Homo sapiens: one gene and its partners. The protein of the gene in region 1 purifies or fractionates together with the protein of each later gene. This does not show direct contact. Each region holds a gene or a part of one and is shown in the gene's direction. Other genes may lie near its edges. The genes, in order: GNA11, EDNRB, ZDHHC9, SLC38A12, EDNRA, FAIM and TMEM184C.

Evidence for each region.
Region 2: the proteins of GNA11 (region 1) and EDNRB purify together in Homo sapiens (affinity purification with western blotting, with the first as the bait; one study listed by BioGRID). This does not show direct contact.
Region 3: the proteins of GNA11 (region 1) and ZDHHC9 fractionate together in Homo sapiens (co-fractionation; one large-scale study listed by BioGRID). This does not show direct contact.
Region 4: the proteins of GNA11 (region 1) and SLC38A12 fractionate together in Homo sapiens (co-fractionation; one large-scale study listed by BioGRID). This does not show direct contact.
Region 5: the proteins of GNA11 (region 1) and EDNRA purify together in Homo sapiens (affinity purification with western blotting, with the first as the bait; one study listed by BioGRID). This does not show direct contact.
Region 6: the proteins of GNA11 (region 1) and FAIM fractionate together in Homo sapiens (co-fractionation; one large-scale study listed by BioGRID). This does not show direct contact.
Region 7: the proteins of GNA11 (region 1) and TMEM184C fractionate together in Homo sapiens (co-fractionation; one large-scale study listed by BioGRID). This does not show direct contact.

The regions. Positions count from the first base shown.
Region 1 is NC_000019.10:3,093,212-3,097,161, forward strand, and holds the start of GNA11 (guanine nucleotide-binding protein subunit alpha-11), read left to right. Parts: upstream 1-1,150; 5' UTR 1,151-1,440; coding exon 1,441-1,576; intron 1,577-3,950. UniProt on the Homo sapiens protein: Guanine nucleotide-binding proteins (G proteins) function as transducers downstream of G protein-coupled receptors (GPCRs) in numerous signaling cascades.
Region 2 is NC_000013.11:77,916,032-77,919,965, reverse strand, and holds the start of EDNRB (endothelin receptor type B isoform 1 precursor), read left to right. Parts: upstream 1-1,134; 5' UTR 1,135-1,341; coding exon of another isoform or gene 1,342-1,392; coding exon 1,393-1,875; intron 1,876-3,934. UniProt on the Homo sapiens protein: Non-specific receptor for endothelin 1, 2, and 3. Mediates its action by association with G proteins that activate a phosphatidylinositol-calcium second messenger system.
Region 3 is NC_000023.11:129,805,887-129,809,386, reverse strand, and holds part of ZDHHC9 (palmitoyltransferase ZDHHC9), read left to right. Parts: intron 1-2,900; coding exon 2,901-3,017; 3' UTR 3,018-3,500. UniProt on the Homo sapiens protein: Palmitoyltransferase that catalyzes the addition of palmitate onto various protein substrates, such as ADRB2, GSDMD, HRAS, NRAS and CGAS. The ZDHHC9-GOLGA7 complex is a palmitoyltransferase specific for HRAS and NRAS.
Region 4 is NC_000017.11:74,775,064-74,779,298, forward strand, and holds the start of SLC38A12 (transmembrane protein 104), read left to right. Parts: upstream 1-1,435; 5' UTR 1,436-1,514; intron 1,515-2,200; 5' UTR 2,201-2,267; coding exon 2,268-2,312; intron 2,313-4,235. Other genes in the region: NAT9 (alpha/beta-tubulin-N-acetyltransferase 9), read right to left, coding at 559-650.
Region 5 is NC_000004.12:147,542,776-147,545,454, forward strand, and holds the end of EDNRA (endothelin-1 receptor isoform a precursor), read left to right. Parts: 3' UTR 1-2,179; downstream 2,180-2,679. UniProt on the Homo sapiens protein: Receptor for endothelin-1. Mediates its action by association with G proteins that activate a phosphatidylinositol-calcium second messenger system. The rank order of binding affinities for ET-A is: ET1 > ET2 >> ET3.
Region 6 is NC_000003.12:138,625,771-138,629,270, forward strand, and holds part of FAIM (fas apoptotic inhibitory molecule 1), read left to right. Parts: intron 1-3,336; coding exon 3,337-3,386; intron 3,387-3,500. UniProt on the Homo sapiens protein: Plays a role as an inducible effector molecule that mediates Fas resistance produced by surface Ig engagement in B cells.
Region 7 is NC_000004.12:147,623,897-147,627,396, forward strand, and holds part of TMEM184C (transmembrane protein 184C), read left to right. Parts: coding exon 1-68; intron 69-165; coding exon 166-202; intron 203-907; coding exon 908-1,113; intron 1,114-3,500. UniProt on the Homo sapiens protein: Possible tumor suppressor which may play a role in cell growth.

The DNA.
Region 1 (3,950 bases):
CCTGATGGACAGCAGGCACTCCATTAATCTCTGGTCCGTGCCTGGCATATAGAATGTGTCCCATTAATGCCTGATACACAGTAGGTGTCCCATTAACGCTTTTTAATTTTTTTTTTTGAGACAGAGTCTCGCTCTGTCGCCCAGGCTGGAGTGCAGTGGCATGATCTCAGCTCACTGCAAGTTCCGTCTCCCGGGTTCACGCCATTCTCCTGCCTCAGCCTCCCGAGTAGCTGGGACTACAGGCGCCCGCCACCACGCCCGGCTAATTTTTTGTATTTTTAGTAGAGACGGGGTTTCACCGTGTCAGCCAGGATAGTCTCGATCTCCTGACCTCGTGATCCACCCGCCTCGGCCTCCCAAAGTGCTGGGATTACAGGCGTGAGCCACCGCGCCCGGCCCTCTTTTTTTTTTTTTTTCTTTGGAGACGGAGTTTCGTTCTTGTTGCCCAGGCTGGAGTGCAATGGCGTGATCTCGGCTCACTGCAACCTCCGCCTCCTGGGTTCAAGTGATTCTCCTGCCTCAGCCTCCCGAGTAGCTGGGATTACGGGCGTGCACCACCACGCCGGGCTAATTTTGTAGTTTTAGTAGAGACGGCGTTTCTCCCTGTTGGTCAGGCTGGTCTCGAACTCCAGACCTCAGGTGATCCGCCCGCCTCGGCCTTCCAAAGTGCTGGGATTACAGGCGTGAGCCACCGCGCCCGACCTCCATTAACGCTTTTTAATGGATGAGTGAAGGTTCCTGTCAGGCAATGTCAGGGCGCTTCCCGGGGGCAGCGACTGCTGCCCAGGCACCTGGAGACCCAGAGAGCGCAGCGGCCGCGTGCGCGCCTCCGCCACCGCGCCTGGGCCGAGCCGAGCGGGACCGAGCGGGGCCGAACGGAGCCGAGCGGAGCCGAGCCTGGCCGGGCCGAGTCCGCCACATTCCCACAATCCCGGGCGGCCCCGCCCCGGCTCCCGGCTGCGCGTCCCCCTTCCCACGTCGGCGCAACCAAACCCGCGGGCCCCCCGCCCTCGCCCCGCCCCGCCCCTTTCGCGCCCGCCGACGCCCCGCCCAGGCCGCTAGTCCCGCCCCCATGGTGGGCGCGCTTGGCCGCCGGCCCCTCCCATTGGCCGCACCGTCTGCCCGTCGCGGGCTGCGCTCCCAGCCTGCTAGGTTGTCCGGCGCTGTCGCTCGGTTGCGGCGGCTGCGGTTGGCGGTGGCTGCGGCGGCGGCGCGGGCTGAGTGCGGCCGCGCGGGAGTCCGCGGCTGGCGCGGCCCGAGCGGGGACCCGGCGGCTCGCCAGGCGGCGGCCGAGGCGGGGCGGGCCGGCCCGGGGCCGAGGGCCGGTGGCCGAGGCCGGAGGGCCGCGGCGGGCGGCGGCCGAGGCGGCTCCGGCCAGGGCCGGGCCGGGGGCCGGGGGGCGGCGGCGGGCAGGCGGCCGCGTCGGCCGGGGCCGGGACGATGACTCTGGAGTCCATGATGGCGTGTTGCCTGAGCGATGAGGTGAAGGAGTCCAAGCGGATCAACGCCGAGATCGAGAAGCAGCTGCGGCGGGACAAGCGCGACGCCCGGCGCGAGCTCAAGCTGCTGCTGCTCGGTGAGTGCGGCCCCCGGGCCTGCCGGCTGCGGGCCCTGCCCTGCCTGTGCCTGCCCTGCCTGTCCGGGTCGGGCCGGGACCCTCCGGGGTCAGCCCTGCCTGTGCCGTCCGGGTCGCGAGACCCTCCGGGGTCAGCCCTGCCTGTGCCTTCCCTGCCTGTCCGGGTCGCGGGACCCTCGAGTGTCAGCCCTGCCTGTGCCTTCACTGCCTGTCCGGGTCGGGGCGGGGCCCTCCGGGATCAGCCCTGCCTGTGTCGTCTGGGTCGGCTCGGGACCCTCTGGGGTCAGCCCTGCCTTTGCTGTCTAGGTCGGCACCTGGGACCCTCCGGGGTCAGCTGCGGGCCCCTGATTTCTTTGGGGTCAGCCCCTGCCTTAACTGTTCATGTTGGCACCTGGGACTCTCCGGTGTCAGCCTGTGTCTGTCCTGTCTGGATCAGGCCCCCGATCACTCCTAGGTCAGCTCCCAGCTTCTGCTGTCTACATTGGGCCTCCAGGACTCTTCAGGATTTGCCCTCTGTTCCTTCTCAAGGGACCAGTCCCTCCCTGCACAGGGACCTTCTGACCTTACCCCACCGGAGTACCCACCCCTCGCTACCCCTTCAGGGCCAGACCTTTGGGCTGTAACCCACAGGGCACACTCACCCCTCACTGCTCAGGGCCCCGCGTTGACCCTTCCCTCCAGGCAGAGCCCTGTACACTCCATGCAGGCCCTGTACCCTCCATGCAGGCCCTGTACACCCCCCCATCCCCCCGAAGACTCCTCCGTGTCCCCTATCCCCACATTCCCTTCAGGGCCATTCTCCTGCCTTCCTGTTCCGGGAAACCCCGTACTCCTCTTGGCTGGAATGCACCCTGTGGGAAAAAGACAGTCTTTCCTCTCCTCAGGGTTCCGCTCAGCTGAGGGTGGGGCGGTTGACACCTGAGGGAGCCTTTGCTTGTTGTCCCAAGCAGCTATCTCGGCAGCCTCCCCCGCCCCCTTCCTTAGAGTCCTGGTGGGAGCCACGCTGAGTCCTCGTTGAGAGCAGCCCCCCACCTGCCGGCTCCTCCCCACCGTCCTGGAGAAGGTTTGCTGGTGAACCTCCTTCTCCCCAAGGCACACCTGCTGCAGGGAGCCAGTCGGGCCAGCTGTAAAGTGTTGTCACTCCAAATAAGGGCCCCTTCAGTGGTTTACAAAACAGAAGCTCTTGCCCTGCCCCGCCCCTGCCCTCCCGAGCTCCTAGGTTAGCTCCTGGGCCGGGGGCGGGGCGGTGGGGAAGGTCGGAAATGCGTGAGAGGCAGCGGTGACGGAGGAGGGGGCGTGCTGGTGGCGGTGGCTCTTGGGGAGGAGGCAGGTCGCATGTTGTGTGGGGAACACGTTGCCTCTCCTGCCGTGAGCCTCTTAGGGCCCTCCGTGTCCCGGGTTACAGAGGTGCCTTGGATGAAACGCCTTCCTGATTTTTTTCCCCAAACTTGTGTTTTGATTTACCTAAGGGTTCTAAAATGGGCCATCTTTCCAGGGGGCCGCGGGTAGGCAGAGCCGTGGTCCTCACGTTTGGAGGAAATGTGCAGTGCGGCCCGCGTGGTGGCACTTTGCACAGAGTGGCACTGGCTGGCTTTTGTAGTGGGTCGTGGACTTTGTTTGGATGGAGGGGAGTTAGGAATTACTGGTGTCATAAAGATCTTACCAGATGGCCTTGCCCTGTGGCTCTGTGACCTCCAGAACCCCCGCCGCCATCCCTGCATGCACCCGGTCTTCTGTGCCTGCACTTTGGACTTGAGATTGACACGGGGTTCAAGGACGAAGGTCAGGGGCTCCCGTGTCTGCCGCCTTGGCTGCTTGGAGCAAGTCTGGAAGTGATGCGGCCCTTCCCGCATCCTCTGTCCAGTGCCCGCCTGTGGCCCGGGGGTGTCTGCTGCAGGAGCACCTGTGTCTGCAGTCCCACCCCCTCCCACTCTGTGAGCCTGAAAGTTGACCCCTATCAGCCTGTAAGACGGGAGGTTGCTGTCAGGCTCAGGGCCAGGCGTGGCAGATAGGACAGTGAGGAAGATGTGAGCTCACGTGCGACCCAAGGAGGACTGGTGTCAGTGCCACGCAGAGAGCCGGGGCTGTCAGGGGGTTGGGAGGGCTTCACACCCAAGGTGTTGGAGCCAGGGACCCCTTTGGGAATCTGATGCGACAGACCCTCAGAAAACTTCCCGTCCAAGCAACCTTGCATCCCAGCTGGAGGGCCCCTTGCTGGGAGGACTTTGACCACCTGAGGTCCAGGGGCTGGGGCCTCAGGGTGCAGGGGAGGGGACCTCTGTCAGGCTCCCTGCCTGCTTGTGGGAACTCATTCCACTCTCCCAGTAGGCCAGCCCCGAGCTTGCGATTGCCCCCGTTTTTCAGGGAGCAGCTA
Region 2 (3,934 bases), on another chromosome or scaffold:
CAGCGCCCACAAACCAACCTTAAATATCACAGCGGCGGAACATTTACCTGAAAGAAAAGTGACACTTGGCATTAAAAGTTCAATTATCACGTTCAGTGCAGAGCCTTGTTCTAGTCTGGAGCTGCCGGGTGTCACATGGTGCGTGATAACTTGCCCTTGATTTGGGTTCATTTGAAGAGCGTAGAACTCTAACAAATAAACAGCCTTTTGGGACCTGTCCCCGGACGAGGACTGCCCCCCTCCCTCGGGCAACTACTACTGATGCTGTCCAGGCATCGCCCAAGGGGAAAGGTTGCAGCGGGGTCGGAAGGCGCGGGAGGAGTCTGGCGGTGATTGATGGGAAGGGATGAATGAATAAAAGTACTTGTCTGATGGCAGCAGAGACCCCGAGCAAACGGTGGAGGCTACACTGTCTGGCATTCTCGCAGCGTTTCGTCAGAGCCGGACCCGCCTGCAGCTCAAGGGAGGCGTGCTCCTCTCCCAGAGCAGGCTGGAACCCAGCTGGGTTCCGCCTCCCGGGAAGGTGGTCTCCATTCGTCGCTCTGCATCTGGTTTGTCAGATCCGAGAGGTAAACATTCGGGCTTGGTGTTGAATTAAAATCATTGATTGAACCTTATTCTGGGGCTTCGGTTTGGCTTACTAGTTTGGGATTTTAAAAAAATAAAAATTAAGCCTATAGAGAGGGCAAATTAAAATTAGGTTGGGTAAAGGAAGGAGCGCGAGTGTTTGAAGCCGTTTGGAGGGAACAGCGGTTTCCAAGTTCCTGCTGACTTGAGAAGTCTCTGCGGGTTTCCGAATCTCCGGCGCACTCCTGGGCGCGCTGCGGGAGCTGTAGCTCAGCCAGCCAGGGAGTAGCGGCTTTCATCCGCCGGGAGGAGTCTTTCGAGTTCAATCGCGGGGTATAGAGGTTCCCCTGCGGGGCAAAATGCAGAGCTTGACACAAGCCCTTGGCCTCTAGGTGCCTTAATTCCGCGGTTCCCACGCACGCTTAACTAAGACGTGTCTGTATTCCTCCCGTTACGTGAAAGAGTTCGGAGCTTTGCCTGGGACCCCCATCATTCCCTCCCTGGCACACCCCTTCCAGAACGCCCCGCCCCACTGCATATTATTTACCCCTCCTGGCCACGCGGGGGAAGAAAAACAGCTGAGAGGGCATCAGGAAGGAGTTTCGACCCGCGCTGGCGAGTCATGAGCGCCAAGTTTCCCACTGGCGCGCAAACTTGAGTTACTTTTGAGCGTGGATACTGGCGAAGAGGCTGCGGGCGGTATTAGCGTTTGCAGCGACTTGGCTCGGGCAGCTGACCCAAGTGTCCTGTCTTCCTTCCTCTGCTTGTCTCTAGGCTCTGAAACTGCGGAGCGGCCACCGGACGCCTTCTGGAGCAGGTAGCAGCATGCAGCCGCCTCCAAGTCTGTGCGGACGCGCCCTGGTTGCGCTGGTTCTTGCCTGCGGCCTGTCGCGGATCTGGGGAGAGGAGAGAGGCTTCCCGCCTGACAGGGCCACTCCGCTTTTGCAAACCGCAGAGATAATGACGCCACCCACTAAGACCTTATGGCCCAAGGGTTCCAACGCCAGTCTGGCGCGGTCGTTGGCACCTGCGGAGGTGCCTAAAGGAGACAGGACGGCAGGATCTCCGCCACGCACCATCTCCCCTCCCCCGTGCCAAGGACCCATCGAGATCAAGGAGACTTTCAAATACATCAACACGGTTGTGTCCTGCCTTGTGTTCGTGCTGGGGATCATCGGGAACTCCACACTTCTGAGAATTATCTACAAGAACAAGTGCATGCGAAACGGTCCCAATATCTTGATCGCCAGCTTGGCTCTGGGAGACCTGCTGCACATCGTCATTGACATCCCTATCAATGTCTACAAGGTAAAGGGCGCCTGCTGAAATCATGGTGGGCTTGAGGAAGGGGGCCTGGTTGGAGACGGGGAGATGAGAAAGCTTGTAGAGGGAGCTTCCCTTTAGCTCCCTCTTAAGGTTCTGCCCCTCCTAAAAGTCAGTAATCTTTGGAACCAAATTCCATTTGGTTCTGTCCACTCATAAAAGTCAGTAACCATTGGAATAAAATTCCATTCAGGTCTTCAGTAGACCTCTGCTAAGCTTAGGACAAGCGTAGTCCCCAGTCTAGCAATGTTAGTATCACTTTGGGAACTTGGTGCACATGAAGATTTTTCTGGCCTCACCCCAGACCTACTGAATCAGAAACTCTGGAGTGGAGCACAGTAATTTGTATTTTAACAAGCCCTTTATGTGATTATGATGAACTGTAAAGTTTGAGAACCACTAGTCCTGAAGGATCTAGTCCCTAAGTGCACCTAATGGGGTACATCCTCTAGTCAAAAGTGTGTGGTCCATGGACAGTCAGCATCAATATTACCTGAGAGTTTGTTAGGAATGCAAGGCTACCTCAGACTTACTAAGTTAGAATCTGCATCTTAAGATCTTCATGTGATTGATATGCCCACTAACTTTGGGAAGGACTGTTTTGGAAGACTTTGAAAGTAGCAGGTACAAAGTAGGTATTTAGGAAATAAATGGCCTGGAAAAAAGAGATCCAGACTGGTGAGTAGGAAAAACACAGTTCACCTGCTGTGACGGACTGTAGCTACTTTGTATTAAATATCTACAGTGGGCCAAGGACTGGGTGAGATGTGTTACTTCCATTATTCCTTCCAGCAGCCCACAAGTAGATATTACAATTAGTTTACAGATGACTGGTAGGATGATCAAAGTAAATGAATTAGAGGTGGAGCTGGGGATCAGACCCAATCTGTCAGGTTCCAAAGTGCAAGCTATATGATGGCACCCCATCAATTATTTCATGGACAAGACCAAGGAGCACTCAAAATCTGTAAGGGTTTCGGTAGTTAACATTATTGTGTGATTACCATGGGCGTCAGTAGAAACACACAAAGAGCCAGGTTGCTCCAGGTTGCTTTGGAACTCCAGACACATCCCAGCACCTCTGGGCCTCAGTTTCCTCAATTCCACAATAAGGCTGCCAGTGCCCACTTACTGAGGCTTTATGGTGTTAAAAAAAAAAAAGCAGTCTAAATAAAACAGTTGGAAAATTTCAAAGACATATGAAAATATTTAAAACTTTCCCAGCAGCAGCAGCAGCAGCAGCAATAGAAAGTTGCACATAAAAACACAATCACAGTGTAAGGAAATGGAATTGTGCTTTGCAGATTTGCCTATAGCTAGCCCTGACTTCAGTACTTCAGTACAAGGGGAAAAAAATGGAATGTAAAGTTGGGAAATGTTGTAGGGAATGCTTTGACCTATTGGCAGGAGTAGTTACCATAAGGCATGCCTGTAAATTTCCCTTCATAAATCTCTAAAAATCCTAACCCAATAGCTATATTTTAAGGGGAATTCCGAACATTTCTGAGGTTTAGCGGTGAGAGTGGATTAGGATATAGTTTTCTCTAAAGGGAATCACCCCCGGAAATGGGGGAATCGATTGAAGAAATCCTAAAATCCTGTATGGCAATTGATTCTGATGAACTGTGAGGATTTACTTGGTAAGAGCTGAAATTGAATCTCTAAATGCAGCCACAACTCCATGAGGGCCAGAAGTGACCCTTTTACTTCTTAAGGCGTCCCACAAACTAAATCTTCCCATTCTAATTTGGCAAAGGAATTTCAATTCAATTCATCAAAACCGAATTGAGAACTTTTCAGTACAAGGTGTTGTGATAAATTTAAAATAAATCTAACAAGATCTCTTCCCAAAGGGAGATTAAAATCTAGTTTTGCTAGGTTGGCACAGGATTTTATGAAAGTTCTGTTTAGGGGGTCAGGAAACCCCACATGTCCAGCCCAGTTAGAAACCTTTCTAAATCAGACAGTAGCTGAAGTGCTGTGTAGAAGGTGGGATTGAGAACATTTTTTTAGTTCTGGTGTGCTGCCTCCAGGACAGATATAA
Region 3 (3,500 bases), on another chromosome or scaffold:
ATATGGCCAAATGATATTCCATTATATGGATATACCACATTTCATTTATCCATTCATCAGTTGATGGACATTTGGATTGTTTCCACCATTTGATTATTATGAGTGATGCTGCTATGAACATTTGTGTACCAATTTTTGCATGGCCATATATTTTCATTTCTCTTGGCTATATACCTGGGAGTAAAATAGCTAGGTCACATGGTAGCTCTATGTTTAACCTTTAAGGTACTGCTGAACTGTTTTCCAAAGTGGCTGCACCATTTTATACCCCCACTAGCAGTGCCTGAGGGTTCCAGTTTCTCTACATCCTCTGCAACACTTATTATCTGACATTTTGAGTCTAGCCATCTTAGTGAATGTGAAGTGGTATCTCATTGTGGTTTTGATTTGCATTTCCCTGATGACTAATGATGTCGAATATCTTTTCATGTGCTTATTGGCCATTTTTATGTGCTCATTGGAGAAGTGTCTGTTCAGAGCTTTTGTCTATTTTTTAATTGGATTGTTTGTCTTTTTTATTGTTGAGTTGTAAGAGTTCTTTATGTAATCTGTATGCAAGTCTCTTACCAGATATACAATTTGCAAATATTTTCTCCTATTCCATGGGTTATCTTTTAATTTTCTTGATAGTGTCCTTTGGAGCACAAAATTTTTAAATTTTGATGTAGTCCAGTTTGTCTATTTTTTTCTTTTGTTGTTTGTACTTTTTGGTGTCATATCTGAGAAACTGTTGCCTAATCCAAAGTCATGAAGATTTATGCCCTTGTTTTCTTGTAAGAGCTGTACAGTTTTGGCTCTTACATTTAGGTTTTTGATCCATTTTGAGTTAATTTTTATATATGGTGTGAGGTAGAGGGTCCACATTCTTTCTTTTGCCTGTAGCTATCCAGTTGTCTCTGCACCATTTGTTGAAAGGACTATTCTTCTCCCATAGACTTGTCTTGGCACCCTTGTTGAAAATCTATAAATGTGAGAGTTCATTTCTGGACTTTCAGTTCTATTGTATTGCTCAATATGTCTGTTCTTATGCTAGTACCACGCTGTCTTGATTACTTTAGCATTGTAGTAAGTTTTGAAATCAGGAAATGTGAGTCCTCCAACTTTATACTTCTTTTTCATGATTGTTTTGGCTCTTCTGGGTGCCTTAAATTTCCGTATGAATCTTAGGATCAACTTGTCATTTATGAAAAGAAGCCAGCTGGAATTTTGATGGGGATTTCATTGAATCTATAGATCAATTTGGGGAAATATTGCCATCCTAACAAGATTAAATATTCTGAGCCATTTACATGGACTGTATTTTCACATATTTAGGTATGATTTGATTTCTTTCAACAACATTTTGTAGTTTTCAGAGTATAAGTTTTACACTTTTGTTACATTTATTCATAAATATTTGATTATTTTTCATGTTATTGTAAGTGAAATTGTTTTACTAATTTCATTTTTGGATTTTTCACTTGGAGTGTATTGAAAGACAATTGATTTTTATATATGGATCTTATACCCTAAAACCTTGCCAAGCTTGTTCATTAGTTCTTTTTTGTTTGTTTTTGTTTTTATTTTATGAGATGGAGTTTCGCTCTGTTGCCCAGGCTGGAGTGCGGCAGCGCCATCTTGGCTCACTGCAACCTCCACCTCCTGGGTTCAAGTGATTCTTCTGCCTCAGCCTCCCAAGTAGCTGGGATTACAGGTGCCCACCACCACACCGGCTAATTTTTGTGTTTTTAGTAGAGACCGGGTTTTGCCATGTTGGCCAGGCTGGTCTCAAACTCCTGACCTCAAGTGATCTACCCTCCTCGGCCTCCCAAAGTGCTGGAATTATAGGCACGAGCCACCGTACTCGGCCCTTGTTCATTAGTTCTAATAGATTTTTAGTAGTTTGAACTTTGTTTTAAAATAGAATCATACTTTTTTTTTTTTTTTTTTTTTCTGAGACGGAGTCTCGCTCTGTCGCCCAGGCCGGACTGCGGACTGCAGTGGCGCAATCTCGGCTCACTGCAAGCTCCGCTTCCCGGGTTCACGCCATTCTCCTGCCTCAGCCTCCCGAGTAGCTGGGACTACAGGCGCCCGCCACCGCGCCCGGCTAATGTTTTGTATTTTTAGTAGAGACGGGGTTTCACCTTGTTAGCCAGGATGGTCTCGATCTCCTGACCTCATGATCCACCCGCCTCGGCCTCCCAAAGTGCTGGGATTACAGGCGTGAGCCACCGCGCCCGGCCAGAATCATACTTTTAAGTGAATTCTTTTTATAAGGTAGATAATAGTTCTCTACTTTGCCTTTCCTAAATTTTGAATTTCCTTTTAAAGTACAGCAACCCGTGTTTATATATTATTGTTGTCATTTTTAATATTATTTTTTAAATGAGTCTGGACTCAAATTGTAACAATCTAGGTTAGTTATTCTTGGTTCAAAGTGGAGAAGGGTGGTATTTTAGAATCACTTGGGGACATTTTCAAACCACATATGACCAGCTGAAAATTTGGACACTTGGCCTTCTTTGGTTCAGAATCACTATTCTAATGAGCTGTGTGTTCGGGCAGAAACACGATTGAGGACCATTGGGTCAGGCCTTGTTACATAAGTATGTTATGACATTTGTTCTGAAGTGGGGAGGACCTGTGTAATTATTTGTGATTCCTATTATTATGACTATTAATAATAATAGAAAAATCTGTCCCCAACCAACAGTTAAGGATCAAACTCAAATAAACTTCAGTTGTGTTCTGCCGAGAAGACGATAGCTTGGTGTTGGTTCTGAGTTTGGTGTTGGTGGCTGCATATCTGTAGCATCAGTGTGATCAGGGGGCTGAGAGGAAGAGTTCAGTGTCTAAGGTTTATCTGCATTTGGATTTTGAGGAACAGCTTTGTGTTGAATCTCATATCTTTTCCTTCTCAGGCCCCCACAGAACACCTGAACTCAAATGAGATGCCGGAGGACAGCAGCACTCCCGAAGAGATGCCACCTCCAGAGCCCCCAGAGCCACCACAGGAGGCAGCTGAAGCTGAGAAGTAGCCTATCTATGGAAGAGACTTTTGTTTGTGTTTAATTAGGGCTATGAGAGATTTCAGGTGAGAAGTTAAACCTGAGACAGAGAGCAAGTAAGCTGTCCCTTTTAACTGTTTTTCTTTGGTCTTTAGTCACCCAGTTGCACACTGGCATTTTCTTGCTGCAAGCTTTTTTAAATTTCTGAACTCAAGGCAGTGGCAGAAGATGTCAGTCACCTCTGATAACTGGAAAAATGGGTCTCTTGGGCCCTGGCACTGGTTCTCCATGGCCTCAGCCACAGGGTCCCCTTGGACCCCCTCTCTTCCCTCCAGATCCCAGCCCTCCTGCTTGGGGTCACTGGTCTCATTCTGGGGCTAAAAGTTTTTGAGACTGGCTCAAATCCTCCCAAGCTGCTGCACGTGCTGAGTCCAGAGGCAGTCACAGAGACCTCTGGCCAGGGGATCCTAACTGGGTTCTTGGGGTCTTCAGGACTGAAGAGGAGGGAGAGTG
Region 4 (4,235 bases), on another chromosome or scaffold:
CCAGGCTGGTCTTGAACTACTGACCTCATGATCCACCCGCCTCAGCCTCCCAAAGTGCTGGGATTACAGGCGTGAGCCACCGCACCCGGCCGTTTTTTTGTTTTTGTTTGTTTTTGTTTTTTTGTTTTTTTTGTTTTTTTTTGAGACAGGTTCTTGCTCTGTCACCCAGGCTGGAGTACAGTGGTACAATCACAGCTCACAGCAGTCTTCATCTCCTGGGCTCAGGCAATCCTCCCACCTCAGCCTCCCTAGTAGCTGGGACTGCAGCTGTGCACCACCATGCCTGGCTAATTTTTGTATTTTTTTGTAGAGACAAGGTCTCGCTACGTTACCCAAGCTGGTCTCGAACTGCTGGGCTCAAGCAATCCTCCTGCCACAGCCTCCCAAAGTCCTGGAATTACAGGCGTGAGCCACGGCACCCAGCCTTTTTTCCCCCCTCATATATAATTATTTCTCACAACCAATGTTTCTTCTTAGGGGAAATAGCCCTGAGACTGGGGCTGTACCTTACACAGCTCTGGGTGCTGATACGCACCCCATGTCAAGCGGGAAAGATACCTGGGCACATGCTCCGAGGTGTAGGGTACAAGGACCACCTTCTTCCCCAGCAGCAAGGTGTTCTGATTCAACCTCATGGTAGCAGCCTGCATGCAGATGGGGAGAGCAAAGACTTCAGGACCCTGAATTTCCTCCAACTTTGGGTAGGCGCTCCAGCTTTCCTGCTGGGGCTAAGTTGACTTCCGTCATTAGTTCCGTCTAGACACTTCAAAGAATACAGACTCCAAAATTCTTGCAAGAAAGAGAACCAGGCTGGTTAAGGATAATTAAACAATCCTTGACTCCCACTCCAAGAGGCCAAGCCTGGGCTCCGTTTCTGCCGGTTCCTTCCGTCCACTCCCCAGAACTTCGATTCCTCAAACCCAAGCACCAAGTACCAAGTACCAAAGTATCCCCAGAGCTCCCATTACTTGCCCCAGTCCAGGGATTCCAACCCAGAATCAACTTTCAGCCCTGCCTTAAACCTACTTCCAACCTCTTACCCCGGCGACCACCCCACGGGGCTCTAGCCACTCCCTCCCCGCCCCCGACCACTTCAGGGCAAGGCGGGCTTAGTCTTAGGCCCTCCCCTTTGAGTGGCGTTCTAGACCACTCTCTTCGACCCTCCAACCACGCGGACCCGGGTACTGCCAAGCTCACACCCACCTACCACCGACGAAATCGTCCCCCGCAGAAAGGGTGATCTACCTCCTCCAACCAGCCACGTTCCCAGGCCCGGCCGGCTACCGCCCCTTCCGCATGCGCGTGAGAACGCGCCCCGCCCACTTCCGCCATGCTGACGGCAGCCGCCAGGCCCCAATCCCGGTCCCGCCCCCGCGAGGCGCCCAATCAGCGCGCGCGAAAAAGGTGGGCTGTGGGGCCGGCGCATGCGCGCTGCGGAAGCTGGTGCTGGACAGCTGGCGCCGGCAGCAGCGGACCGGCGGGAGACGGCGGCTTGGGAGCTGGCTGTGCTGCAGGTGTTGGGTCGGGTCGGGTCGGGACGGGCGGGAGAGGACGAGACGGGTCGGGATAGGTTGGGGCGGGGCGGGGCGGCACTAGACTCGGGACTCCTCCAGGAGGGAGAGAGAGGGAGAGGCTGGGAGTGGGGTTCTTGAGAAAAGAGGGAGCTTTGAGGGTGGGGAACCCTAAGAGAGTAGGTGGGGCCAGGGAGTGGAGGCCCCATTAAAAAAAGGAGGCCTTAGTGCCAAGAGTGGAGTTGGAAGGGCAATGTAGGAAAGCCCCCAGCTCCCTGCCCTAGGCAGAGGCGGCAGACAGTTCCTTGGGCTCCCATGTGTGGTAGTGAGCTCCTGGTTCCTGGAACTAAACGAGGATAACCACCCCAGAGCGTGGAAAGGGGGCTCTTGTGGTGGGTGAGACTTAGTGGTTTTAGAGGCCCCTTAAATCACTTGCACCCCGAGCAGCATTGAAAACATCCGTGCTGGGCACAGAGCAGTGCCCTGCACAGCAAGGGAAATGTTAGAAGAAACCGTCCAGATTTCTGTCATCCAGGGTGACCCCTCCCTCGGGGGTGAGTCTTGTGACAGATACTGAGGCCCTAAGTGTCTGTGATAAAAGAACCAGAGGTGGCAGGGGAAGTCTGCAAGCCTCCTCCCACCCCTGTCTCAGTCCATCAGATAGGTGAAGCCTGCTCTTTTGTTTTAAGGAGCTGCGGCAGCCGCCGTCCTTGCACCTAAGGAACCTCTGCTGCCAGCCCTTCCTCACTTTTGGAAATGGCGGGTGAAATTACAGAGACCGGGGAACTCTACTCTTCCTACGTGAGTGTGACTTATAGAACCTTTTGCTCACTTAAGTGTTCCTGGCTTCTAGAAAAGCACATTGCTTGCTGGAGATGGGACTAGTGAGTGCTGCTGCTTGAGCAGACCATAGTGGAAGCAGGATGGGGGAGTTCCATGGGGCAGCGACTACAGTGCTGCTGTGGTGGCTCAGAATGTAAGTCAGATTTATTCTCTTTTTAAGGTGTTTGTCAGAGTGGTCAAGCCAAACAAAATCGCCATGCTGTTTATAATGTTAATCCCGGGCTGGGCACGGTGGCTCACGCCTGTAATCCCAGCACTTTGGGAGGCTGAAGCGGGCAGATCACCTGAGGTCAGGAGTTCAAGACCAGCCTGGCCAACATGGTAAAACCCTGTCTCTACTAAAAATACAAAATTAGCCGGGCATGGTGGCACTGTAATCCCAGCTACTCGGGAGGCTGAGGCAGGAGAATCGCTTGAACCCGGGAGGCGGACGTTGCAGTGAGCTGAGATCGAGCCGTTGCACTCCAGCCTGGGCAAAAAGAGCGAAACTCTGTCTCAAAAATAAAGAAATAATGTTCATCTCCAGGCTACCACACTTGCCTGCAGTGCTGCCCTTCAGATGAACAGTGATTGACAGCTGTTGACTCTGGGTTTTGCTCATCTCAGCAGTTGGAAACCGCTTTGGTCTTTACTGAATTTTAAATTGCACAACTTTTATAGTCTTGGATGGCGTAAGAAGCAGCGAAAGCATACAGAGACTTCTAATTACAGTTTGGTGGACTCTGCAATTAGAACAATTAGAATGATTGATTCTCACTGTCTTAGGTCTGTGTTACCTCTGGCTGCCCCCAACACACACGCAGTTTATCTTCTCTATGTAACGTATGATTGGTCATAGTTGTTACATCACAGGGCCCTCTTGCCTGGATAAGTAGCCAGAGGGTTGGAATAATCAGATGGTTGACTCAGGTTGCTACCAACCCTCCCAGGCAAAAGCAGCACTGCCCTAAGTAGCAAGAGTTTTCTAGAACTTGACCTGCCTTCAACAGCTGCCCTGCCTTGTACATAGCTTCCTAGCCTGGGGATCTCTGGTCTGTTTCTGCTAGCTTCACAGACTAGCATTGTGGTGTGATGGACAAGGAAGTGTCTCCAAGACATTTCCTTCACAGCTGGAAGAAAGCCTTCCTGATTCCAGAGTCTTCCTATTGGGCCTGTGCCATTCATGTGTGGCAATAAAGGAGCCTTCTTCACCCATCACCTGTGTAATTTCTCAGGGGAAGTCTTTTTTTTTTTTTTTTTTTTTTTTTTGAGACAGAGTTCCACTCTTGTTGCCCAGGCTGGAGTGCAATGGTGCAATCTCGGCTCACTGCAACCTCTGCCTCCCAGGTTCAACCTCTGCCTCCCAGGTTCAAGCAATTCTCCTGCCCCACCCTCCCAAGTAGCTGGGACTACAGGCATGCACCACCCTGCCCAGCTAATTTTTTGTATTTAGTAGAGACAGGGTTTCACCATGTTGGTCATGCTGGTCTTGAACTCCTGACCTCAGGTGATCCACCCGCCTCAGCCTCCCAAAGTGCTGGGATTACAGCCGTGAGCCACTGCACCCAGCCTCTCAGGTGAAGTCTTTCATGAACCCTGGAATGGAATAAATAGTGTCCCTCTCATTTGTGGAATTATGTAACAGCTCCTAGCCTCCTGCTGTCAGTGATGAAATCTCTATGCTGTCTATTAATGTAAAAGTCACCACGGCTCCTGCTTTTTCTTACAACATCTGTAAATTTAGAGATAAGGAGATGAGTCATCCCTGTAACTAAGTTTTGTAAGGAAAACACTTGGATATGTCCCCATTTCTTGTATCTCCGGTTGTTTAAGGGGTCCTCTCACATGTCAGCATGTGCCCACAGGAAATGAGGCAGTTAGGCCTGCAAGCTTCAGTGCGCT
Region 5 (2,679 bases), on another chromosome or scaffold:
TTTATCCACCCACAACATCTACGAATCGTACTTCTTTAATTGATCTAATTTACATATTCTGCGTGTTGTATTCAGCACTAAAAAATGGTGGGAGCTGGGGGAGAATGAAGACTGTTAAATGAAACCAGAAGGATATTTACTACTTTTGCATGAAAATAGAGCTTTCAAGTACATGGCTAGCTTTTATGGCAGTTCTGGTGAATGTTCAATGGGAACTGGTCACCATGAAACTTTAGAGATTAACGACAAGATTTTCTACTTTTTTTAAGTGATTTTTTTGTCCTTCAGCCAAACACAATATGGGCTCAAGTCACTTTTATTTGAAATGTCATTTGGTGCCAGTATTTTTTAACTGCATAATAGCCTAACATGATTATTTGAACTTATTTACACATAGTTTGAAAAAAAAAAGACAAAAATAGTATTCAGGTGAGCAATTAGATTAGTATTTTCCACGTCACTGTTTATTTTTTTAAAACACAAATTCTAAAGCTACAACAAATACTACAGGCCCTTAAAGCACAGTCTGATGACACATTTGGCAGTTTAATAGATGTTACTCAAAGAATTTTTTAAGAACTGTATTTTATTTTTTAAATGGTGTTTTATTACAAGGGACCTTGAACATGTTTTGTATGTTAAATTCAAAAGTAATGCTTCAATCAGATAGTTCTTTTTCACAAGTTCAATCTGTTTTTCATGTAAATTTTGTATGAAAAATCAATGTCAAGTACCAAAATGTTAATGTATGTGTCATTTAACTCTGCCTGAGACTTTCAGTGCACTGTATATAGAAGTCTAAAACACACCTAAGAGAAAAAGATCGAATTTTTCAGATGATTCAGAAATTTTCATTCAGGTATTTGTAATAGTGACATATATATGTATATACATATCACCTCCTATTCTCTTAATTTTTCTTAAAATGTTAACTGGCAGTAAGTCTTTTTTGATCATTCCCTTTTCCATATAGGAAACATAATTTTGAAGTGGCCAGATGAGTTTATCATGTCAGTGAAAAATAATTACCCACAAATGCCACCAGAACTTACGATTCTTCACTTCTTGGGGTTTTCAGTATGAACCTAACTCCCCACCCCAACATCTCCCTCCCACATTGTCACCATTTCAAAGGGCCCACAGTGACTTTTGCTGGGCATTTTCCCAGATGTTTACAGACTGTGAGTACAGCAGAAAATCTTTTACTAGTGTGTGTGTGTATATATATAAACAATTGTAAATTTCTTTTAGCCCATTTTTCTAGACTGTCTCTGTGGAATATATTTGTGTGTGTGATATATGCATGTGTGTGATGGTATGTATGGATTTAATCTAATCTAATAATTGTGCCCCGCAGTTGTGCCAAAGTGCATAGTCTGAGTAAAATCTAGGTGATTGTTCATCATGACAACCTGCCTCAGTCCATTTTAACCTGTAGCAACCTTCTGCATTCATAAATCTTGTAATCATGTTACCATTACAAATGGGATATAAGAGGCAGCGTGAAAGCAGATGAGCTGTGGACTAGCAATATAGGGTTTTGTTTGGTTGGTTGGTTTGATAAAGCAGTATTTGGGGTCATATTGTTTCCTGTGCTGGAGCAAAAGTCATTACACTTTGAAGTATTATATTGTTCTTATCCTCAATTCAATGTGGTGATGAAATTGCCAGGTTGTCTGATATTTCTTTCAGACTTCGCCAGACAGATTGCTGATAATAAATTAGGTAAGATAATTTGTTGGGCCATATTTTAGGACAGGTAAAATAACATCAGGTTCCAGTTGCTTGAATTGCAAGGCTAAGAAGTACTGCCCTTTTGTGTGTTAGCAGTCAAATCTATTATTCCACTGGCGCATCATATGCAGTGATATATGCCTATAATATAAGCCATAGGTTCACACCATTTTGTTTAGACAATTGTCTTTTTTTCAAGATGCTTTGTTTCTTTCATATGAAAAAAATGCATTTTATAAATTCAGAAAGTCATAGATTTCTGAAGGCGTCAACGTGCATTTTATTTATGGACTGGTAAGTAACTGTGGTTTACTAGCAGGAATATTTCCAATTTCTACCTTTACTACATCTTTTCAACAAGTAACTTTGTAGAAATGAGCCAGAAGCCAAGGCCCTGAGTTGGCAGTGGCCCATAAGTGTAAAATAAAAGTTTACAGAAACCTTGCAAGTGTCTCTTCATTTTTATGTAGTTTTCCATAGAAAATGTTTGTTACATAATGCCTGTTGCAAACCTCTCCTTAGTAATATCCTGGAAAGCAGTTTACTATCAAACAGGTACTTCCTACCTCTATTCTCAACCAACCTATTTTGTTGTACTGAGCATTTAACTCTGTCATTCATTCCTTCATTTACCTTTTCAGTAAGTTTAATTGGGCATCTACTATGCACCAGGCATTCTTCCAGATATTGGGGACATAGTAAACAAAACAGGCAAAGTCCCTGATTCCATGGAGCTTGCATTCTAGGCAATAAACAGTTACAGTCAATAAGCAATATATTAGGTAGATATCTGGAGGAAAAGATTCATATATATCCAACTGTTTACTTGACATCCACAGTTGGATGGCTAGTACACCATAATATATGCAGAATGAAGCTCCTGATATCTTCCAGCTTACCCTGCCTAATATTCCTCTGCTCAGTTATAGACAGTCCCATTTTTTA
Region 6 (3,500 bases), on another chromosome or scaffold:
TCATCTTCATTTGCCCCTGAGGAAATGGAAGCTCAGAGTGGTGGTGACTTGCCAAAGGGTACTGCTAGTAAAGAGTGATGCTGAGAGCTGACCTCAAAGATCATGTGCATTTTTTTTCACCACCTAAAAAATGTGAGGCATATAAGGGCAATGAAAACAGGGTTGGTTAGCATTCTCAGCTCTTGTAGTCTCCACACCACTGAATACCATGGGAGGAAAATAAAGCTGGCAGGAGGAAAGTACATATGAAACTTCACGCTGGAAGGAAATTCTCTTTCTGTTCTGAAAAGTTTCTCTTTGATAGCATTTACAGAACATAACCTGCTCAGGACTCACCTGGGAAGTCCCTAGCTATTGTTCATGCGGCTGAGGGAATCCGCAGGCAAAGAGGAGATGCTCCAAGATGAACATGCAGCAGCAACTCCCATGAGTCACTAAATCCAGCACTGAGTCATAATAGATTTGAAATTTTATCAGCTAGATATGTCCTTTTATTAACATACCACTTTGAATAGGTTACATACTCAAGATTCAGAAATCAAAATGCTATTAAAAGACACATTAAAAAGTCTTGCTTCCATCCCTGTTCCCATCTGCCATGTTCCCCCATCAAGATAACCATTTTTAGTGTCACTCTAGTGTTTCTTTATTCAGATTCAAGCGAGTACACATATTCTCTCTTACCACATAAAAGCATCTTGCTTTATTCACTTATTATATTCCGAAGATCCTTTTATATCAGAACCTAAAGAACTTTTTCATATTTTTTATAGCTGCAGAGTAAATTTCAATAGTAAATGGTGTATTTAGCTCATTCCCAACTGATGAACACTTGAGCTGTTTCTAATCTTTTGCTGTTAGAAGCAATGCTGCATGAATAGCTTTGTTTGCATGCCTCTTGGAACAGGACACATATTATATTAGTACACATTTCTGGAAGTAGGAAAGTAGGACTTCTATTCTTCTGGGTCAAAGACTAATTGTATTTGTCATCTTAATAGATTTTGCCCATTTGCCTTCCATGGTACTTTTACCATTTTGTACCCCCGTTAGCTATTTTCCCCAGGTTCTCCAGCAGAACATGTAGCCAAACTTTTGGATTTTTTGGCATTCTGCTAGGTGAAGCAATGGTATTTCAGGGTTGTTTTTGTCTTTTTCATAAGTGAGGTTGAGCATCTTAGTTTTAAGTTTCTTTTGTATTTCCTTTCTCATGATGCCTGTTCATGCCCTTTGCCCCATTTTCTTTTGGTTGTTGGTCTTTTTCTCCTTGATTTCTCATAGTCTTCACATTAGTAAGTTTAGTCCTTTGTTCATGCTGTGAGTTTGACATATTTTTTTCAGAGTTTGTCATTTATTACATGACTTTGCTAATGTGTGTGCATTTTTCTTCAATTGTGCTGTGGCTTTTTTACTTTTTTTTTTTTTTCCCAAGACAGGATCTCACTCTGTCGCCCAGGCTGGAGTGCAGTGGTGCAATTTTGGCTCACTGCAACCTCTGCCTCCTGGGTTCAAGCAATTCTCCTGCCTCAGCCTCCTGAGTAGCTGGGATTACAGGCGCCCGCCACTACGTCCAGCTAATTTTTTGTATTTTTAGTAGAGACGGGGTTTCACCATGTTGGCCAGACTGGTCTTGAACTCCTGACCTTGTGATTTGCCTGCCTCAGCTTCCCAAAGTGCTGGGATTACAGGCATGAGCCACCGTGCCTGGCCTTTTTTTGTACTTTTATGTAGTCAAATTTAATACATTTTCTTTTAGGGCTTCTGGATTAGTAGTGTTCTTCAGAGGCATGCTAATACGCTATTGTAGAAACTCTGAGTACACGTACATGTTCAGTAAGCATAGCAAGTAAAATACCAGTTTCTACCATCATCGTGGTTTATCATAGCACTGTGTGCACTGATCATGTCTTGGGACAAGTTGAGTTTACCTGCACCTGTGACTATAGCAGCTTTCTATGAAGGCTGCCACTGAGGTGACCCCTGCCCATATCTCCTGGACCCCTCTGGCTTTCTCTTTTTCCATCTAGCGCACCTCAAAGGCTTTTCTCCCATCTCTAAGTGAGGCTCCCATCTCAAGGTATGGGGAGAGAAAGAACCCCCTTTAGACTGTGCTCCTGGAGCAGATGGCCAGGCAGTAAGACCCTGGACTGGTGCCTCAAACCTGACCCCCAGACTCCTTGTGCACATACAGGCCATACTTCCTTCTCTTCTTCACTGTAATACCCAAAGCTCAACTTCTGGCTTCTTGATTAGTGTAGTCTTCTCTCCTGCTACTCCTGAGGACACTAACATTTGCAAGGGGCTCTGGGGACTCCTCCACCCTGAGATGAGCTATGGCAAGTTAACTGATCCATTTAAGTGTGTCGGGGCAGCATTTTGTTCCATATTGTTCCTTAGTGTGCAGTCCACCAGCTATACCTATTTTTTACTTGTAATCCAATAATTTTTCTCTAAACTGAAACCATTATGAAAAGGAATAGACATTATTGTACTACCTAGTAAGAAGCTGGACTAGATTTCTAAAGCGGACATGCTGTCTATCCTATATAAATCCCGTGGCAGCTGCTTTCAGTGGTCTTTTGTGCCATCACCCAGTTGGGTGAGTGTGGGAGGCAGGGGAGTCATCTGGTCAATATTGAAGGGCATTTTGTATGGAAGGGTCCCTCCTCACATTCATCTGTATGCATCCTTCTTTTTTATTTATTTATTTATTTATTTATTTATTTATTTTTGAGATGGAGTCTTTCTCTGTTGCCCAGGCTAGAGTGCAGTGGTGCGGTCTCGGCTCACTGCAAGCTCCACCTCCCAGGTTCACGCCATTCTCCTGCCTCAGCCTCCCAAGTAGCTGGGACTACAGGCACCCACCACCATGCCCGGCTAATTATTGTATTTTTAGTAGAGATGGGGTTTCACCGTATTAGCCAGGATGGTCTCGATCTCCTGACCTTGTGATCCGCCTGCCTCAGTCTCCCAAAGTGCTGGGATTACAGGCGTGAGCCACCGCGCCCGGCCTGTATGCATCCTTCTTTAAAGATTGTCCTTTTGGATTCATTTTGTTTCATAAGGCTTCATCAATTTGTATTAAGACCATAACTTTCTCTTAAAAGGTTGTTTTGTTTCATTATAGTTTTATGAACAAAGAACAAACACAGCTTCTTCAAATTTTAGGAGAGTCTGCAAGCCATGAAAGCCATGAAAAAGTGTTGGGTTTTGGAATATTAATGGAGTTTTAGAGATCTGGTATATCAATCCTTTCCTAAAGTAATAAATAGGAAAAGTTAACTTTATCTTTAAATCACAGAATTATAACTTAAAGTTTTTATGTTACCTTTACAGAAAAAGATGCTATGGACGTATGGTGCAATGGTAAAAAATTGGAGACAGCGGTAAGTTGACTATTTGATGACTCTAAGTGCCATGTGTCTCAGTTACCATTGAATTGTTGCTGCATTTCCTAATTATAGAGATCTTATAATGAATCAAGGCCCTCTTGATAAAAA
Region 7 (3,500 bases), on another chromosome or scaffold:
TCACTGTGGGTGATATTGCAACACTTAGTGCATTATACACAACCTGAACTACAAAAACCAATAATAAGGTATGTCTTAATAATTTTGATTCCACTACTGTTGTGTTGGCTTATTTCATAAATATGACATAAAATGTTTTAAATTTCTGTTTTCCTTTTCCAATAGGATTCTTTGGATGGTACCTATTTACAGTTTAGATAGTGTAAGTATGTTTCATTTTTATCTCATTAACTAAGGACTTGTTTGATGATACTATAATTACAGAATGCTTAAGATAATGAAAGTATGTTATTGACAAGGAGTCAGATTAATAAGTAAAAAGGTTCACTTGTTTCTAATGATAGAGAATATAAAGTATAATTAAAAATGTAAAATGTTATATTATAAATGTTTAAAAATCTATAGCTGTTTGCTTTCTTTTAAACTTTCAGATTGTTAAAGAATGTAATATTTTAAATTAATATACTACTCTTTTTATTTATTACGTCTTTTATTTGAATCAAAAATTTAAAAACCTTCCCCAGTGGATACACATGAAATTGTTGTAGATGACTGCTTCTAATATGAGTAAATATTAAAGGAAATATCTTTAGCAGCATTATCTATGATCATATTAAGAAAAACTTCAGATTTAAGAACACAAGTACTTACTTTAGCTTCTCTCTTTATTCATTATTTACCCCTCAAACACTTGTTTTTGTTTACCAATATCTAAGATGTTTATTGCTTTTAAGCATTCATTTCACAGATTGATAGCCCTCATAATGATAAATTTTAGAGAGTCCCATGTAAGTATATGACAAGACATCTCAAGCATAAAAATTAGCTTATTGTGAGTACCATGAATGGAGTGGTGATTCATTTTATCTTAGCTGCAACTATCTTTAACATCTGTGCTTTTTCATAGTGGATAGCTTTGAAATATCCCGGAATTGCAATATATGTGGATACCTGCAGAGAATGCTATGAAGCTTATGTAATTTACAACTTTATGGGATTCCTTACCAATTATCTAACTAACCGGTATCCAAATCTGGTATTAATCCTTGAAGCCAAAGATCAACAGAAACATTTCCCTCCTTTATGTTGCTGTCCACCATGGGCTATGGGAGAGTAAGTATGTTTGGTTTAATTCTTTTATGTTTTGGTTTTTCATTTAAGCAGAGTTTTTAAGTAGCAATCAGCTCTTTACAAGGCAGTGCATTAAGTATTAATAGCAGAACAATAAGTATAAGACAGCTCCTGATGCAGTTCATAGTTGTTTGAAGGCTAACAAAACAGTTTTGTAATCCCACATATATGTTAGTCTTTTTTACATTATTAATCCCAAATCCAAAAATTAAAGTATTGCAGGTAAAAACAGTAATCATTTAATCAATATGCTTTTGCAGTTGAGAACCAAGGTCTGCAGATCTTATGTAAGAACACACAGCTAGTTAAAAGACATAGACAAGATAATGTAGGTTGTAGAACCACATATGATATGAAGTAGGAGCAATAAGTAACAGTGTTTGGTAACATAATACATCAGCTTGCCTTATTATATGTTCATGTAGGACATTAAAACTTATGTCATTTCATTTTGAAAAATAAATTGAGTTTACAATTGCATTTATTATAGAAATGAACCACTTGGTATTTTTCAGCAAGCAAACATTTGGAAACAGTGTTTTAGAAAGATTAATTTTGCAATATCATAAAGGATGAATTGGAAGGAAGAAGATTCCAGAGATGGAGAAATAAATTAGGAGTTTATAATAATCTATTTGTGAAATAAAACTGAAAAGGGGGATGAGATTGGAATAGAAAAGAAAGGCAATAAGAGAATGCAACTGAAAAATCAATAGGACATGTCCACTAATGCAACCGCCCAAGGGGTTCACTTTGCCAGCCACCTAGACAGAACCGATTCATCAAGACGGGAATTGCAAAAGATAAAGAGTAATTCAGACAGAGCCAGCTGTGCGGGAGACAGGAGTTTTATTATTACTCAAATCAGTCTCCCTAGGCATTCGGGGAGCAGAGTTTTAAGGATAATTTGCTGGGTAGGGGGAAGCCAGTGAGCCATGAGTGCTGATTGGAGAGAGGTGAAATCATAGGGAGTCAAAGCTGTCCACTTATACTGAGTCAGTTCCTGGGTGGGGGCCACAAGGTGAGATGAGCCCGTTTATTGATCTGGGTGGTGCCAGCTGATTCAACAAATGCAGGGTCTGCAAAATATCACAAGCACTGATCTTAGGAGCAGTTTAGGGAGGGCCAGAATCTTGTAGCCTCCAGCTGCATGACTCCTAAACCATAATTTCTAATCTTATGGCTAATGTTAGTCCTACAAAGGCAATCTAGTCCCCAGGCAAGGAGGTTTGCTTTGGGGCAGGGCTATTTCTATAGCTTTGGGAGAAACTATAAACTAAGTTTCTCTCAAAGTTAGTTCAGCCTACGCCCAGGAATGAACAAGGACAGCTTGGAGGTTAGACACAAGATGGAGTCGGTTTAAGTTATCTCTTTCACTGTCTCAGTCATAATTTTGCAAAGGCAGTTTCACTAATAAATGAGGAATAAGGTGGAAGTTACAAGCCAAGGTAAATGGAGGTAGAGTGATCAGTGTAGACATACAACATAAGAATGGGTGCATTGCCTCCTATGCAGTACAGGACCATTTGTACAACGTCCTGACAAATTTTGTCTCTATTTACACCCTTGAAATGACAGGGAGCTACCTGGCTTTTTAAAAAAATAAGCTACTAATGTGTTCATTTGACAAATATATGTTGAGCACCAAGTACGTGCTAGTATAAAGAAATACCTTAGTGCACAGAACAGACATAGACCTCATGGAACTTAGTTTGGTTAGGAGAGTTAGGAATTAAGACACAAATATATAGTTAGTTATTTCAGGAAATGCAATGAAGGAAGAAGGACAGGAGGCCATGAGAGAATAGTAATGACAAATTAATATAGATTGGTTATCAAGGGAGACAGATTGTGCTCAACTCTGAAGGCAACAAGGACAAATGGGCATTTATAGCTAGAGCATGTTGAGGGGGTCAGCGAATGCAGAATTACGAAGAGGGGACATCAGGGCTAGGAGGATTCTCACTAAACTGAACAGAATTCTTGCTAAAGGCAGGCCAAGGCCTTAGTCATCCAAGGTGGGTGCTGAGGAATTTGATCGGATGTCAAAGGTGATCAGATATCAAAGGGGGCTGGGGAATGACTTAGCAAGATTCTTTTAGATTGACTGACACAGGACAAGGACAAGGCCCAAGGATGAAGCCAAGTTGAAAAGAGGCATCAGAGGCTTGTCTAAAGTTTGTCTAAATGAGAGTCTTTGTCAAATGAGAAACCATTTATAGGATATTATGCAGAGAACCGGTATCTAAATTTCATTTTCAAAGATTACTGTGTTTTTTTTTTGAGATGGTCTTGCTCTGTCACCCAGGCTAGAATACAGTGGCGTGATCTCAGCTCATTGCAACCTCCACCTCCCATATTCAAGCAAT